Homo sapiens: one gene and its partners. The protein of the gene in region 1 purifies or fractionates together with the protein of each later gene. This does not show direct contact. Each region holds a gene or a part of one and is shown in the gene's direction. Other genes may lie near its edges.

The links. The genes of interacting proteins can lie anywhere in the genome.
Region 2: the proteins of RFC1 (region 1) and RACGAP1 fractionate together in Homo sapiens (co-fractionation; one large-scale study listed by BioGRID). This does not show direct contact.
Region 3: the proteins of RFC1 (region 1) and PDS5A fractionate together in Homo sapiens (co-fractionation; one large-scale study listed by BioGRID). This does not show direct contact.
Region 4: the proteins of RFC1 (region 1) and POLD2 fractionate together in Homo sapiens (co-fractionation; one large-scale study listed by BioGRID). This does not show direct contact.

What each region holds. Positions count from the first base shown.
Region 1 is NC_000004.12:39,290,160-39,293,362, reverse strand, and holds part of RFC1 (replication factor C subunit 1), read left to right. Parts: intron 1-1,510; coding exon 1,511-1,724; intron 1,725-3,203. UniProt on the Homo sapiens protein: Subunit of the replication factor C (RFC) complex which acts during elongation of primed DNA templates by DNA polymerases delta and epsilon, and is necessary for ATP-dependent loading of proliferating cell nuclear antigen (PCNA) onto primed DNA.
Region 2 is NC_000012.12:49,997,995-50,001,494, reverse strand, and holds part of RACGAP1 (rac GTPase-activating protein 1), read left to right. Parts: intron 1-242; coding exon 243-323; intron 324-1,761; coding exon 1,762-1,879; intron 1,880-2,223; coding exon 2,224-2,354; intron 2,355-3,500.
Region 3 is NC_000004.12:39,862,912-39,866,411, reverse strand, and holds part of PDS5A (sister chromatid cohesion protein PDS5 homolog A), read left to right. Parts: intron 1-2,952; coding exon 2,953-3,076; intron 3,077-3,338; coding exon 3,339-3,500. UniProt on the Homo sapiens protein: Probable regulator of sister chromatid cohesion in mitosis which may stabilize cohesin complex association with chromatin. May couple sister chromatid cohesion during mitosis to DNA replication.
Region 4 is NC_000007.14:44,114,180-44,117,364, reverse strand, and holds the end of POLD2 (DNA polymerase delta subunit 2), read left to right. Parts: intron 1-117; coding exon 118-232; intron 233-349; coding exon 350-548; intron 549-854; coding exon 855-935; intron 936-1,092; coding exon 1,093-1,250; intron 1,251-1,471; coding exon 1,472-1,599; intron 1,600-1,968; coding exon 1,969-2,070; intron 2,071-2,419; coding exon 2,420-2,580; 3' UTR 2,581-2,685; downstream 2,686-3,185. Other genes in the region: AEBP1 (adipocyte enhancer-binding protein 1 precursor), read right to left, coding at 3,104-3,185. UniProt on the Homo sapiens protein: Accessory component of both the DNA polymerase delta complex and the DNA polymerase zeta complex.

The sequences.
Region 1 (3,203 bases):
ACCCTTGGTTTAGGTGCACTAAATGGCATCTTTGACTTTTCTATGAGTCTATTAGAAGATGATGATACTGTAAAACATTGTAGAACAGTTTTGGAAATGGTTTCATGATTTCTGGGGGTACTGTGGCTTAGGGACTCACACTGCTTCCTTTAAGTACTAGCGTGCTTAATTATGGAAGACAATCTAGAGGAAATGGATGAAATTAAACTAGGAGAGTTTTAAAAACTCTTTGTCTAGGTAATAGTTGCGAGGGTGAGTCTAGATTTCTGATCAGGAAAAAAGCTGTGGCTTCTTATGGTTCACACATTCAGTTCCTTGAAGGCAGGAGCAGGACCCATAGACAATTTGTAAAGAATCATTTCTTTTTGCTTCTGATGCTGGTTCTGATAACAACAACTTTTGAAGTTTTACGTATACAGGCTGGGTGCGGTGGCTCACGTCTGTAATCCCACCACTTTGGGAGGCCAAGGCGGGTGGATCACCTGTTAGGAGTTTGAGACCAGCCTGGGCAAGATGGTGAAACCCTGTCTCTACTAAAAATACAAAAAAAAAAATTAGCCGGGTGTGGTGGCGGGTGCCTGTAATCCCAGCTACTTGGGAGGCTAAGTCAGGAGAACCTCCTGAACCCGGGAGGTGGAGGTTGCAGTGAGCCAAGACTGCACCACTGCACACCAGCCTGGGCAACAAGAGTGAGGCTTCGTCTTTAAATAAATAAATAAATAAATAAATAAATAAATAAATAAATAATGTATACATATAAATGCCTGGTTTGAAGATAGAGGCAGCTGGGTTGGAAAGATTTAGGATGGTGGCATTTGAAATATTGTTTTGTTCAGTTGCTTTCTGTCTTTAAGAAGTGACAACATTTAAGAGAGAAAGAAAGAGTCATTTTATGATAACATTCGAGTTCTCAGCAGACCAGAGACTGTTTCCCTAAACCTTCCTCTGGCCACTGTGGATCACTTTTTGATTTTGTGGGAACACTCTGTAATTTTCTTAGATTTGGAGAAAAGCCGGCTCTAGAACTGACGATTTCAGAGTAACAGTATTAGGAAATGTGAGGGAAGCATTCATATATGATTTTGTGTGTTATAATCAGGGACCAAAAGGTGTTATACACATTCACACACTTGAGATAGGGAATTTCATTGCCTTATACTGATGCTTTTAATATTTTGGAACTTGGAACGAGTCATATTTATGAACACAAAGAAACATTCTGTTGCCTGGGCCTTAAGAGTAGGGTGGAAGTAGAATCCACGTATGTTTTTCAGTCACTGATGTAGGTAAGTAGAAAATTTCCTTTGGGCACATTGATGTGTACCCATTACCCTCATGCTGTGGTGCTGGGCTTTCTAAACTACACCAGCTGGCTGTCAAATAGTAGGCATTCCATTCAGCATTATTGAAATTGGATTGAACTCTGCCTGATTAACTCAGTGCTGTTATGCACAGTATGACTTGAGTTGATACTTTGCTGTTGACTATGTCTCTTTTGTTGTGGTTTCAGAACTTACTCCAGCAAAAGGACTGTAAACATGGATTATCTGTCGCTTCTAAGGGATGCACTTGTACAGCCCTTGACCTCACAAGGAGTAGACGGAGTACAGGATGTTGTTGCACTTATGGACACATATTATTTGATGAAAGAAGACTTTGAGAATATCATGGAAATCAGCAGCTGGGGTGGCAAACCTAGTCCCTTTTCAAAGCTGGATCCCAAGGTAAATCATGTCACTCACTGGTTCTTCGTCACTTTCTATTACCAGGTTTGTACTGACAATACTTCGGAGGTGTTTTAGATGCTTTAAGATTTACTTCTTTTTCCCCTCAAATGCTTGTTGCTTCTTATGGCCTATATTTTCCAAAGATACTATTTGAATGCAGTATTAAGAGTAGACTTCTGGGCTTGACTTTACAATTTGTATTTTTATCTTTGCTTTATGCTCAGTGGAAAAGCAAGAAGTGAAATTTGAGGAGCAAATATAAATATATTCTTTATAAAGGATGAGTGGATGAGTCTAGGGAATTAAAAGTTGAGCGGTGAGCTCTGGTGGTAATGGGTTGTAAAAATAAAATATGTTTATTGGCTGAGGATTTGTACAAATTTTCTTTTTCTTAGTCTACCTAATCTGTGGATTCAGTATTTATTCCAGTTGGATAATCTTCTCTGTAATAATGTATCCCCACTTTTCTTATAATGAGACGAAAAAAACTAAAGTGATACATCATGAATATGTAACATCCAATACCCAACTCTTGCACCTGTGTAATGAATGCGTTTTAGAAGACATATTCTCTGTAGTTTGCCCTCCCCAGAATTTTGACCCGACTTTATGGTTATCAGTAAATTCTCACAGCAGACATCCATTGTTAGAATTCATGGACTAATTCAGGAATTATGTTTAGAAGCTTGAAGGTAAGACTTTCAAGTTACTTAGTATTTTGAAGTAACTACTCTTATTATGGAAAAGGTATCTAGTGTTTTGTGGAAATTAAAGGCCAACTTATATCTTGTGATGAGCTCCCCCAACCTTTTTTTTTTTTTTTGAGACAGTCTAGCTCTGTTGCCCAGGCTGAAGGGCAGTGGTGCGATCTCGGCTCACTGCAACCTCTGCCTCCCGGGTTCAAGCCATTCTCATGCCTCAGCCTCCCAAGTAGCTGGGATTACAGGTGCACTCCATCACGCCTGGCTAAGTTTTGTATTTTTAGTAGAAATGGGGTTTCCCTATGTTGGCCAGGCTGGTCTCAAACTCCTGGCCTCATGTGAACTGCCTGCTTTGGCCTCCCAAAGTGCTGGGATTACAGGCGTGAGCCACCACACCCAGCCGAGCCCCTTTTTGATTTACTGATTCACTGATTAACTTTGCTTACTACTTTGTAGAAATGTGGAGAATGCTGAATAGGTAAACATGATGACTTGAAGTGACCTTTTGTTTGTTTGTTTGCCTAAAGTTCCCAAATATATATATACGTATTTTTTTTTTTTTTAGACAGAATCTCACTCTGTTACCCAGCCTGGAGTGCAGTGGCGCAATCTCAGCTCACTGCAACCTCCACCTCCTGGGTTCAAGATTCTCATGGAGAAGCATGAGCCACTGTGCCCCACCTTCAGTCTTTTTTGTCATGGGCTCTATTAAGAATGTTATGAAAAATATGGAACTTATCCACAGAAAAATGCACGTACTTAGATTTACATGTAT
Region 2 (3,500 bases), on another chromosome or scaffold:
CTCCATAGCTTGCTCATTTTTTCTAGGGCACTGAGAGCATTTTTGTACAACATATTCTTTTGAAACAGCTTATTCTTCATGTGGAAATAGGCAAAGAGAGAGAGAGAGAGAACACATTGTTTGTTATTTACTGTAGCCCTAATCCCCAGGACCTGTATCCAAGTTGTTTGATGGAATAATTTTATCTTCTGTGCTTCAGATCTGCTTGGCATTAAAGTTACGGGTCTTTGTCTCCTTTCTAGCGCTCTACTAGCCGACAGTTTGTTGATGGTCCCCCTGGACCTGTAAAGAAAACTCGTTCCATTGGCTCTGCAGTAGACCAGGTAAGAATAGTCAGGCCAAGGTAACAGAGATTACTGGCCCCAAGCATTAAAACTTCTCTGAGTCAGCATTGCAGCATTGTTTTGAGAGACATGATGTTTAGTTAAAGTTTTTGTTTGTTTTTTGAGACAGAGTTTTGTTCTTGTAGCCCAGGCTGGAGTGCAATGGCACCATCTTGGCTCACTGTAACCTCCACCTTCCAGGTTCAAGTGATTCTCTTGTCTCAGCCTCCCACGTAGCTGGGATTACAGGCGCATGCCACCACGTCTGGCTAATTTTTGTATTTTTAGTAGAGACAGGGTTTCATCATATTGGTCAGGCTGGTCTCGAACTCCTGACCAGGTGATCTACCTGCCTCAGCCTCCCAAAGTGCTGGGATTACAGGCGTGAGCCTCCGTGCCTGGCCTTTGGTTAAAGTTTTTCTATGCAGTAGGATCCTTATCCCTATGAATGGAATTACTCTGATGTAGTAAACAACTGTCAGAGTGAGTCTTAGTTGCTTGAATATATACCCCCATGACCTATGTTTATCTTCTTAGGTACGAGATTTCTTTATTTTTACTTTTTAAAGTAGAGGGGGAGTCTCTCCTTGCTGCCCAGGATGACTCGAACTGCGGGGCTCAAGTGATCTTCCCACCTTGGCCTCCCAAAATGCTGGGATTGCAGGCATGAGCCACTGCACCCAGCCAAACATCAGATTTCAACATAAGAATGTTTCAGGTCAGGCGTGGTGGCTCACGCCTGTAATCCCTGCACTTTGGGAGGCCTAGGCAGGTGGATGATCACCTGAGGTCAGGAGTTCGAGACCAGCCTGGTCAACATGGCGAAATCCCGTCTCTACTAAAAATACAAAAATCAGTCGGCCAGGCGCGGTGGCTCACGCCTGTAATCCTAGCACTTTGGGAGGCTGAGGCGGGTGGATCACGAGGTCAGGAGATTGAGACCATCCTGGCTAACACAGTGAAACCCCATCTCTACTAAAAATACAAAAAATTAGCTGGGCATGGTGGCAGACGCCTGTAGTCCCAGCTACTCGGGAGGCTGAGGCAGGAGAATGGCGTGAACCCGGGAGGTGGAGCTTGCAGTCAGCCGATATTGGGCCACTGTACTCCAGCGTGGGCGACACAGCGAGACTCCGTCTCAAAAAAAAAAAAATCAGTCAGGTGTGGTGGCGCATGCTTGTAATCCCAGCTACTCAGAAGGCTGAGGCAGGAGAATGCCTTGAACCTGGGAGGCGGAGGTTGCAGTGAGCCGAGATCACGCCACTGTTCTCCAGCCTGGGCGGTAGAGTGAAAAACTCTGTCTCAAAAAAAAAGTATCAGACTGGGGTCTTAAGTCTTGACTAAGACTAAGGAATTTTTTACCTGCTCCAAAATACCCTATAGTGGAGGGTAAGTTAGATTCTTTGTTTGTCTTTCCTCATTACTACTTTTGTTGCAGGGGAATGAATCCATAGTTGCAAAAACTACAGTGACTGTTCCCAATGATGGCGGGCCCATCGAAGCTGTGTCCACTATTGAGACTGTGCCATATTGGACCAGGAGCCGAAGGAAAACAGGTCCATTGAATTTGTGACTAAACTGGCCTGTGTAAAACAACTAGCAAAATTTTGGAGAGTTGGTTTCTTAGAACCCTCTGGAGGCGGGGATTGGATGTATTGGGTAGTTTCTTACTGCTGCATACCGAGGACCAGAGAACTGCTTGTGTCATGCTTTACCTTTGAATTGCTAGCCCACTGGCATAACTTTAGTTTTTCTTGAAACTGTTTTTTTACATAGCCATTAGTTCTCACTTTTGGCTATGATAACAGATTACTGTTTATCTCCCAGTTAAAATTGGAGCTAAAATTTAGAAGGAGCAAAATACTTAAGACACAAAGCTTAAAAGTTGCTTGTTTTCTAGGTACTTTACAACCTTGGAACAGTGACTCCACCCTGAACAGCAGGCAGCTGGAGCCAAGAACTGAGACAGACAGTGTGGGCACGCCACAGAGTAATGGAGGGATGCGCCTGCATGACTTTGTTTCTAAGACGGTAAATCTGTGATTGTTGTTTGTGTTTTAATTTTTTAATTGTGAAAGTAATAAATACCAGGAATAAAGTTAAATACTTTAGTGTTATAAAGTTAAATGTCAAATTTCCTTCCTCATTCCAATTTTACTCTCCAGAAGTAACTATTGGTTACAGAGGTAAGTTTCTTTCCATTCTGTGAGTAATACTAAATTAAAGAGACCAACTTTTCTGAAGCAATTGTTAGTACTTTTTTTTTTTTAATTTGAGACAGAGTCTTACTCTGTCACCCAGGCTGGAGTGCAGGGGTGTAATCATAGCTCACTGTAGCCTTAACCTCCCAGTCTCAAGCAATCCTCCTGCCTCAGCCTCCTGAGTAGTAGGGATACAGATGTGTGCCACCACGCCCGGCTAATTTTTAAATTTTTTGTAGAGACTTGGTCTTGCTATGTTGCTCAGGCTGGTCCTGAACTCCTGGGCTCAAGTGCTCCCCCTGCCTCAGCTCCCAAAGTCCTGGGATTACAGGCATGAGCTACTGTGCCTGGCCCATTGTTAGTACTTTTTAGTGACACATGTTTACATTTTTTCTTGAATATATCACCTAAGATTTTCAAAATGTTTTGCTTTTGTACCATTTTATTTCCTTATAAAAATCCAAGCAAATTAACTGAGGCTCAGAGGAGTTAACTGACATTTTTGAGCCACATGATAGTAAGTGACAGATTTCACATCCAGGTTTTCTTTTTTTCTTTTTTTTTCTTGAGACAGAGTCTCACTCTGTTGCCCAGGCTGGAGTGCAGTGGTGCGATTTCGGCTCACTGCAACCTCTGCCTCCCGGGTTCAAGCAATCCTCCTGCCTCAGCCTCCCGAGTAGCTGGGATTACAGGTGCCCACCACCATGCCCGGCCAATTTTTTGTACTTTTAGTAGAGATGGGGTTTCACCATGTTGGCCAGGCTGGTCTCAAACTACTGACCTCAGGTGATCCTCCCGCCTCAGCCTCCCAAAGTGCTGGGATTACAGGCGTGAGCCACCATGCCCTGCCAACATCCAAGTTTTCTGCTCTTTGTAAACAAGTTCTTTCCACTATCACACACTGCTGCCTTCCAGTGGGATGACCTTAAACAAGTTACTTAAACTCTCTTTGCTTCTGTTTCCTCATCTTAAAATG
Region 3 (3,500 bases), 570 kb from region 1:
GGCGCGGTGGCCTATGCCTGTAATCCCAGCATTTTGGGAGGCCGAGACGGGCAGATCACGAGGTCAGGAGTTCAAGACCAGCCTGGCCAATATGGTGAAACCCCGTCTCTACTAAAACAAAAAACAAAAATTAGCCAGGCATGGTGGCACATGCCTGTAATCCCAGCTACTCAGGAGGCTGAGGCAGGAGAATCGCTTGAAACCAGAAGGCAGAGGTTGCAGTGAGCTGAGATCGTGCCACCGCACTCCAGCCTGGGCAACAGAGCGAGAGCCTGTCTCAAAATAAATAAATAAATAAAAATAAAAATTGCAATGGCAACTCAAGGGAGAGTTGAAGCCTTCTTGTTGTTCTACAGATTTGGGTGTGTACACTTGTATGTGCACACAGAGATTGTTTACATTGTTACACATTTTCACTTTTAATCTCTAAAATTGCCATCTCATTTTAAGATGAAAATAGAAGCTCAGTTTTTCATGATCCTGGTTTCTGTCAAATTCTTGATTTAGTAGGGGCCAAGATTACCAACATAGATAACTAAAGTATTCTACATATGATGCATTCCTTTTTAAAAATTTGTTTTAGAGGACAGAGGTTTAATCATTCTTTATGAGGCTGAGTGCAGTGGCTTACGCCTGTAATCCCAGCACTTTGGTAGGCCAAGTCAGGCAGATCAATTGAGGTCATGTTGAAACCCTGTCTCTACTAAAAATATAGAAATTTAGCCAGGTGTGGTGGTACGTGCCTATAATCCCAGCTACTGGGGAGGCTAAGGCATGAAAATCACTTGAACCCAGGAGGTGGAGGTTGCAGTGTGCCAAGATCACGCCATTGTACTCCAGCTTTGGCTAGTTATGTGGTACTGCTATGCTATTAATTTTTTTAAAAATTATTGTGATTAGGAATGGGATCTCACTATGTTGCCCAGGCTAGCTGGGCTCAAGCAATCCTCCTGCCTCAGCCTCCTGAGTAGTGGGACTATAGGTGTGCACCACTACGCTCTATTTTTATCATAGAATAAGCCAAAGGCAGCCTTTTATAACACTGTTTAGAGCTGAGTTAGGGATAATGAAAGCTTTAAATTGGGGGTAATTATGTACAGTACATGGCAAAGGCATAATAATGAGCTCTTACAAGTCAGTGATACCTAGGCAGGACCCCCAGTGGAGATGAAGTTTAGCTATTATCAGTTTACTTTTAAAAGTTTAACATCACTAAATGCAGTCAATACAATTTAAACTTAATCAATACCTCTTTTCATTACAAATCAGAAAGAAAAAAAAACGTTATAAGCAATCATTCCTCAGTATGATCATGGAAATGGGTTCCTTCATTACTCCTATGAGTATAAATTAGCAGGACTCTTTGGCATTTTGCATCTAGATCCTCAAAAATGTTATCCTTGACTCTTTATTTTTACACTCATAATTCATGAGTATAAAAGAATCATATGAAAGCTTATACACAAGCATGTTCCTCCAGCATTATTTTCCATCACAAAAAATAGGGGAATGGTTAACCATAGAATGAACACCCATTGGACAGATCCTAACTGGATATCATATAATATAGTATTACCTTTTGTAAGCCTCAATTTCCTCATCTTATGGAGTGAAAATTAATTGAGATAAAGCCTATAAAGTGTTTTTCACACCTGCCTGGCACGGAGTAAGCACTCACATAATAGCTATTAACTTTGATTCCTGAATGAATGCCATAGAAACCATTTGAGGCTCCCTCATTGTTACCAGTGCTCATTTTAACAATCCTGTTGTCCAAGAGTGCCAGGTTTTCTTCTCTCTATGCTTAGCAACAGTCCCAGTGGGTTCCGGCTAGCTTTCTGCATTTCGTAAAGTGGTCACAATAAATACAAAAGCCATGCTATGTTCCACATAGAAGTCGAAGTAGAAAGACTCCCATGCCATCCCATTCATTACCACATTTTACCACGTAAGTAATAAAAATCCACAGTGTCGGGGTGGGAGTGCCAAGGCTTCATAGGTTCCATTTGAAAACTTTACTCTGCAAAAGGAGATCAGCCCCAGGAACTAGTACCTAAGACAGACACTGGCCTCTTATATTTCATATCCTTTAGGTATTTGTCTGATACTTCTTCACTCTTAACTGCAGCCCTGCCATTTCAGCAGGCATTAAACTAGATTCCTGTTACATGTTTATATGCAGGAAATAGATTTTAAATGATGATAGGTGATTTTTTTTTTAATTCTTTGTGGTTTTTTTAATCAAGTTTTTTTGTTTTTTGTTTTTTGTTTTTTGTTTTTTTTGAGACAGAGTCTTACTCTGTTGCCAGGGTAGAGTGCAGTGGTGCGACCTTGGCTCACTGCAACCTCCACCTCTCAGGTTCAAGCAGTTCTCCTGCCTGAGTCTCCCAAGTAGCTGGGACTACAAGTGCGTGCCACCACACCCAGCTAATTTTTTGTATTTTTAGTAGAAACAGGGTTTCACCATGTTGGCCAGGATGGTCTCAATCTCTTGACCTCGTGATCCGTCCACCTCGGCCTCCCAATGTGCTGGGATTACAGGTGTGAGCCACCATGCCTGGCCACTTTAATCAAGTTTTCTACAATCAATATGTATTTCTCTTAAAATGAGGGATACAGCTCCTGATGTAAAGAGTTTTTCCTAGCCTTGCAATTACTATGGTTGCAAGAATAAGCAGAGTTTTTGGGTTGTGGTGAAGTATCTAAGCTAGAGTTTGACTAGAAATGAAGGCAGGTAAATTTGTAATCAGAAAGTCACAATGATTTGATTTGATTGTGAAAGTCACAATCCCCTGTGTTAAGTTCATGGACTCAAAGTAGCTTTCCCATATTTGTACGTCATTTTAAACATAAATTATGCTCTAAGGACCTTACATTCAAAAAGGGACGAAAGCATTTTTATGAATGATAGTGGTTATAGGAAATGTTTATTTCTTTTTTGTTTGTTTATAGTAAATCTGATATGTCTCGCTTGCGATTAGCTGCTGGTAGTGCCATAATGAAGCTTGCTCAGGAACCTTGTTACCATGAAATTATTACCCCAGAACAGTTTCAGCTCTGTGCACTTGTTATTAATGTAAGTAACAATCTTATTTTTGTCAATTACTTATCTTCAAAGTTGAATACATTACTTTTCTATGGATACAAATCCATTTATAATGTGAATATATGCACAAAAGTCACTACTATTATTACCTGTTTAACTGTCTTCCAATTATTACATTATTTATTCTCCCATATAATTATCTTCTTTTTAATTGAAGACACTAAAAATACTTAAACTGCTGTTTTTTATTTAATAAATGGTTGCCAATTTAAGTTTTTCTGTGCTGCTGTAGGATGAGTGTTACCAAGTAAGGCAGATATTTGCTCAGAAGCTGCATAAGGCACTTGTGAAGTTACTGCTCCCATTGGAGTATATGGCGATCTTTGCCTTGTGTGCCAAAGATCCTGTGAAGGAGAGAAGAGCACACGCACGACAATGTTTACTGAAAAATATC
Region 4 (3,185 bases), on another chromosome or scaffold:
AGGTGAGAATTCACCAATGTGGTTGTGGAGAACTGGCTTGTTTTGCCCGTTGGGGTGACTGGAAGGAGTGGTAGCACCTGGGGCTCCCTGCTCAGGCCTGATGCCACTGCTCCCCAGGGACTGTCCTGGCTGTGTTTGGCTCCGTGAGAGACGACGGGAAGTTTCTGGTGGAGGACTATTGCTTTGCTGACCTTGCTCCCCAGAAGCCCGCACCCCCACTTGACACAGATAGGTGAGCAGCAGTTCTCGGGAGCTGGAACCAGCTCATGGTCAGTGGAATCTTTGAGTTGCACCTAGGAGGGGCTGCCTCCCTTCTCGGCACCCTGGAGGACCCCACCTTCTCCCGCAGGTTTGTGCTACTGGTGTCCGGCCTGGGCCTGGGTGGCGGTGGAGGCGAGAGCCTGCTGGGCACCCAGCTGCTGGTGGATGTGGTGACGGGGCAGCTTGGGGACGAAGGGGAGCAGTGCAGCGCCGCCCACGTCTCCCGGGTTATCCTCGCTGGCAACCTCCTCAGCCACAGCACCCAGAGCAGGGATTCTATCAATAAGGTATGGAGCCCACCTGGCTGCATTCAGCCCCAGCCCAGGAGCCTGCAAGCCTGTAAGACCCTCCTTCCCCAGGGCGAGTAGGGTACCCTGTGAGGTCTCGCAGGTCGGTGGGAAGCGCCCTGCAGTGACTCTGGGGCCTCCTGCAATGGGGCTCCTCATGCCCAGGCCCTCGCTGAGGATGGTGGGAGGCTTGAAGGGAGTGAGGGTCTATGGGACAACAACTGCATCTTCCAGCTGGTGGGGCTCTACTCTCCTCTGAGCCTGGGACTCGCCTGGGCCTGATGGCCTTCTGGGCTTCTATTCCAGGCCAAATACCTCACCAAGAAAACCCAGGCAGCCAGCGTGGAGGCTGTTAAGATGCTGGATGAGATCCTCCTGCAGCTGAGCGTGAGCGAGCTGGGGGCTGGAGGGGTGATGGGGATTGCAGTCTTCAAAGCTGCCACTGGGCAACAGAAGGCAGGCAGGAGGGCAGGGGGAGTGGCCGGAGTTGGTGTAGGGGGCTCCTTCGGGGCCCTGTGAGCTCTCCCTGCCCTGTGCCTTCCAGGCCTCAGTGCCCGTGGACGTGATGCCAGGCGAGTTTGATCCCACCAATTACACGCTCCCCCAGCAGCCCCTCCACCCCTGCATGTTCCCGCTGGCCACTGCCTACTCCACGCTCCAGCTGGTCACCAACCCCTACCAGGCCACCATTGATGGAGTCAGGTAGCTGGCACAGCCACACTTCAGTCTGACCCAGCCTTTTGCCTCAGGAGGCACAAAGAAGGGAGGGGAGGGAGGGCCCAGGAAGGTGGCAGGGCTGCAGAGGCCCACCTAGCATCTGTTCCTTCTCTCTGGGGCATCCCCACAAGAGCGCCAGATGAGCTCTGGGCTGACCACTATGGGTGGCACCCAAAGCCAAGAGTCAGCTGAGCTTTGCCTTGCAGATTTTTGGGGACATCAGGACAGAACGTGAGTGACATTTTCCGATACAGCAGCATGGAGGATCACTTGGAGATCCTGGAGTGGACCCTGCGGGTCCGTCACATCAGCCCCACAGCCCCTGACACTCTAGGTAACAGGCTCAGCCATACAGGGTGGGAGCAGAGGGCCAGGAGGCCTGGCAGGACCCTGAAGTGCACAGGGTCCCCCTGTGGGTTTGCACTTGCCAGCATTGCTGAGAACTGTCTGAGGAGAAGTTCAGAGGCTTGGCACCTGCTCTGGAAGCTACTCTGGAATCTTAATTCTAAGGCCAATGGCTGCCCACCCCAACGGGCAGCAACAGCAGGGCCAAGGTCTTGTGACAATGTCTGGAGGTGCCCCTATTGTCACACTGGGGGTCTCCTACTGGCCTGCAATGGGAGGAGGGGCTGCAGCCCCACATCCTGTGCAGAGTGCTAGTGCTGAGGCGGAACCCTCCTCAGAGCTGCCCCTTCTCCTCCAGGTTGTTACCCCTTCTACAAAACTGACCCGTTCATCTTCCCAGAGTGCCCGCATGTCTACTTTTGTGGCAACACCCCCAGCTTTGGCTCCAAAATCATCCGAGGTAATTTTTGTCTTCTGGGGGCCCAGGCTGATTTGCTGATTTGCTCTCACCTGGGGACAAGGTTCACAGAGAAGAAAACCTGCATTGTGGAGTCCCCCTGGCCCTTGTGGGATGGACAGCTGAGGTCTTCTGCACAGCTGCCATTTCACTGTGGGAGCCAAGCTGCCTCGCCAGCTGGGCAGGGACTGGAACGGCTCCCAGCCTGTGTGCCTCTCAAGGCTAATCTCTGGTCTCCTATTGTCACTGCCCCACTGTGTGCCAATGGGGACTCCTGTTTATTTCTGGCAGCTTCTCTTTGAGGCAGGACTTACTTGGAACCTACAGTGGGTCCTATGTGACTTCTTTGCAGGTCCTGAGGACCAGACAGTGCTGTTGGTGACTGTCCCTGACTTCAGTGCCACGCAGACCGCCTGCCTTGTGAACCTGCGCAGCCTGGCCTGCCAGCCCATCAGCTTCTCGGGCTTCGGGGCAGAGGACGATGACCTGGGAGGCCTGGGGCTGGGCCCCTGACTCAAAAAAGTGGTTTTGACCAGAGAGGCCCAGATGGAGGCTGTTCATTCCCTGCAGTGTCGGCATTGTAAATAAAGCCTGAGCACTTGCTGATGCGAGCCTTGAGCCCTGGGCACTCTGGCTATGGGACTCCTGCAGGGGTGCCCACAGTGACCATAGCCCATGCACCCACCAGCCGGTCTCCCTCCTCCCCATCCCTGACACCTCAGAATGTGAGCAGTCCGTGCCATGAGCTTGTTTTATTGGAGTGACCTTGGCTCCCTCCCTCTGCCCCTACTCCAACACTGCAGCAACCCCATCTCTTACGAGACTGGCAGGTGGAGCAGGAGCCTCTACACAGCCTCTGGCTCTTAGGTCCCAGTCATGTTTGCACCCCCTCAAAGGGGCAGGACCAGCCCTTCCTTTCAGTGTCCATACCAGGGGCCTTCCATGTGCTGATGGGTGATGTGACTGTGGTCAGCAGGCTTGGGAAGTGCTGCTGCTGTAGCTTGAGTTGGGCTGGGGTCTTGGTAGGACGCTGATCTCAGAAGTCCCCAAAGTTCACTGTGTAGGTCTCTACTGTTGTGAAGGGGAATGCCTGGCCAGTGGCTATCTCCTCCTCTTTC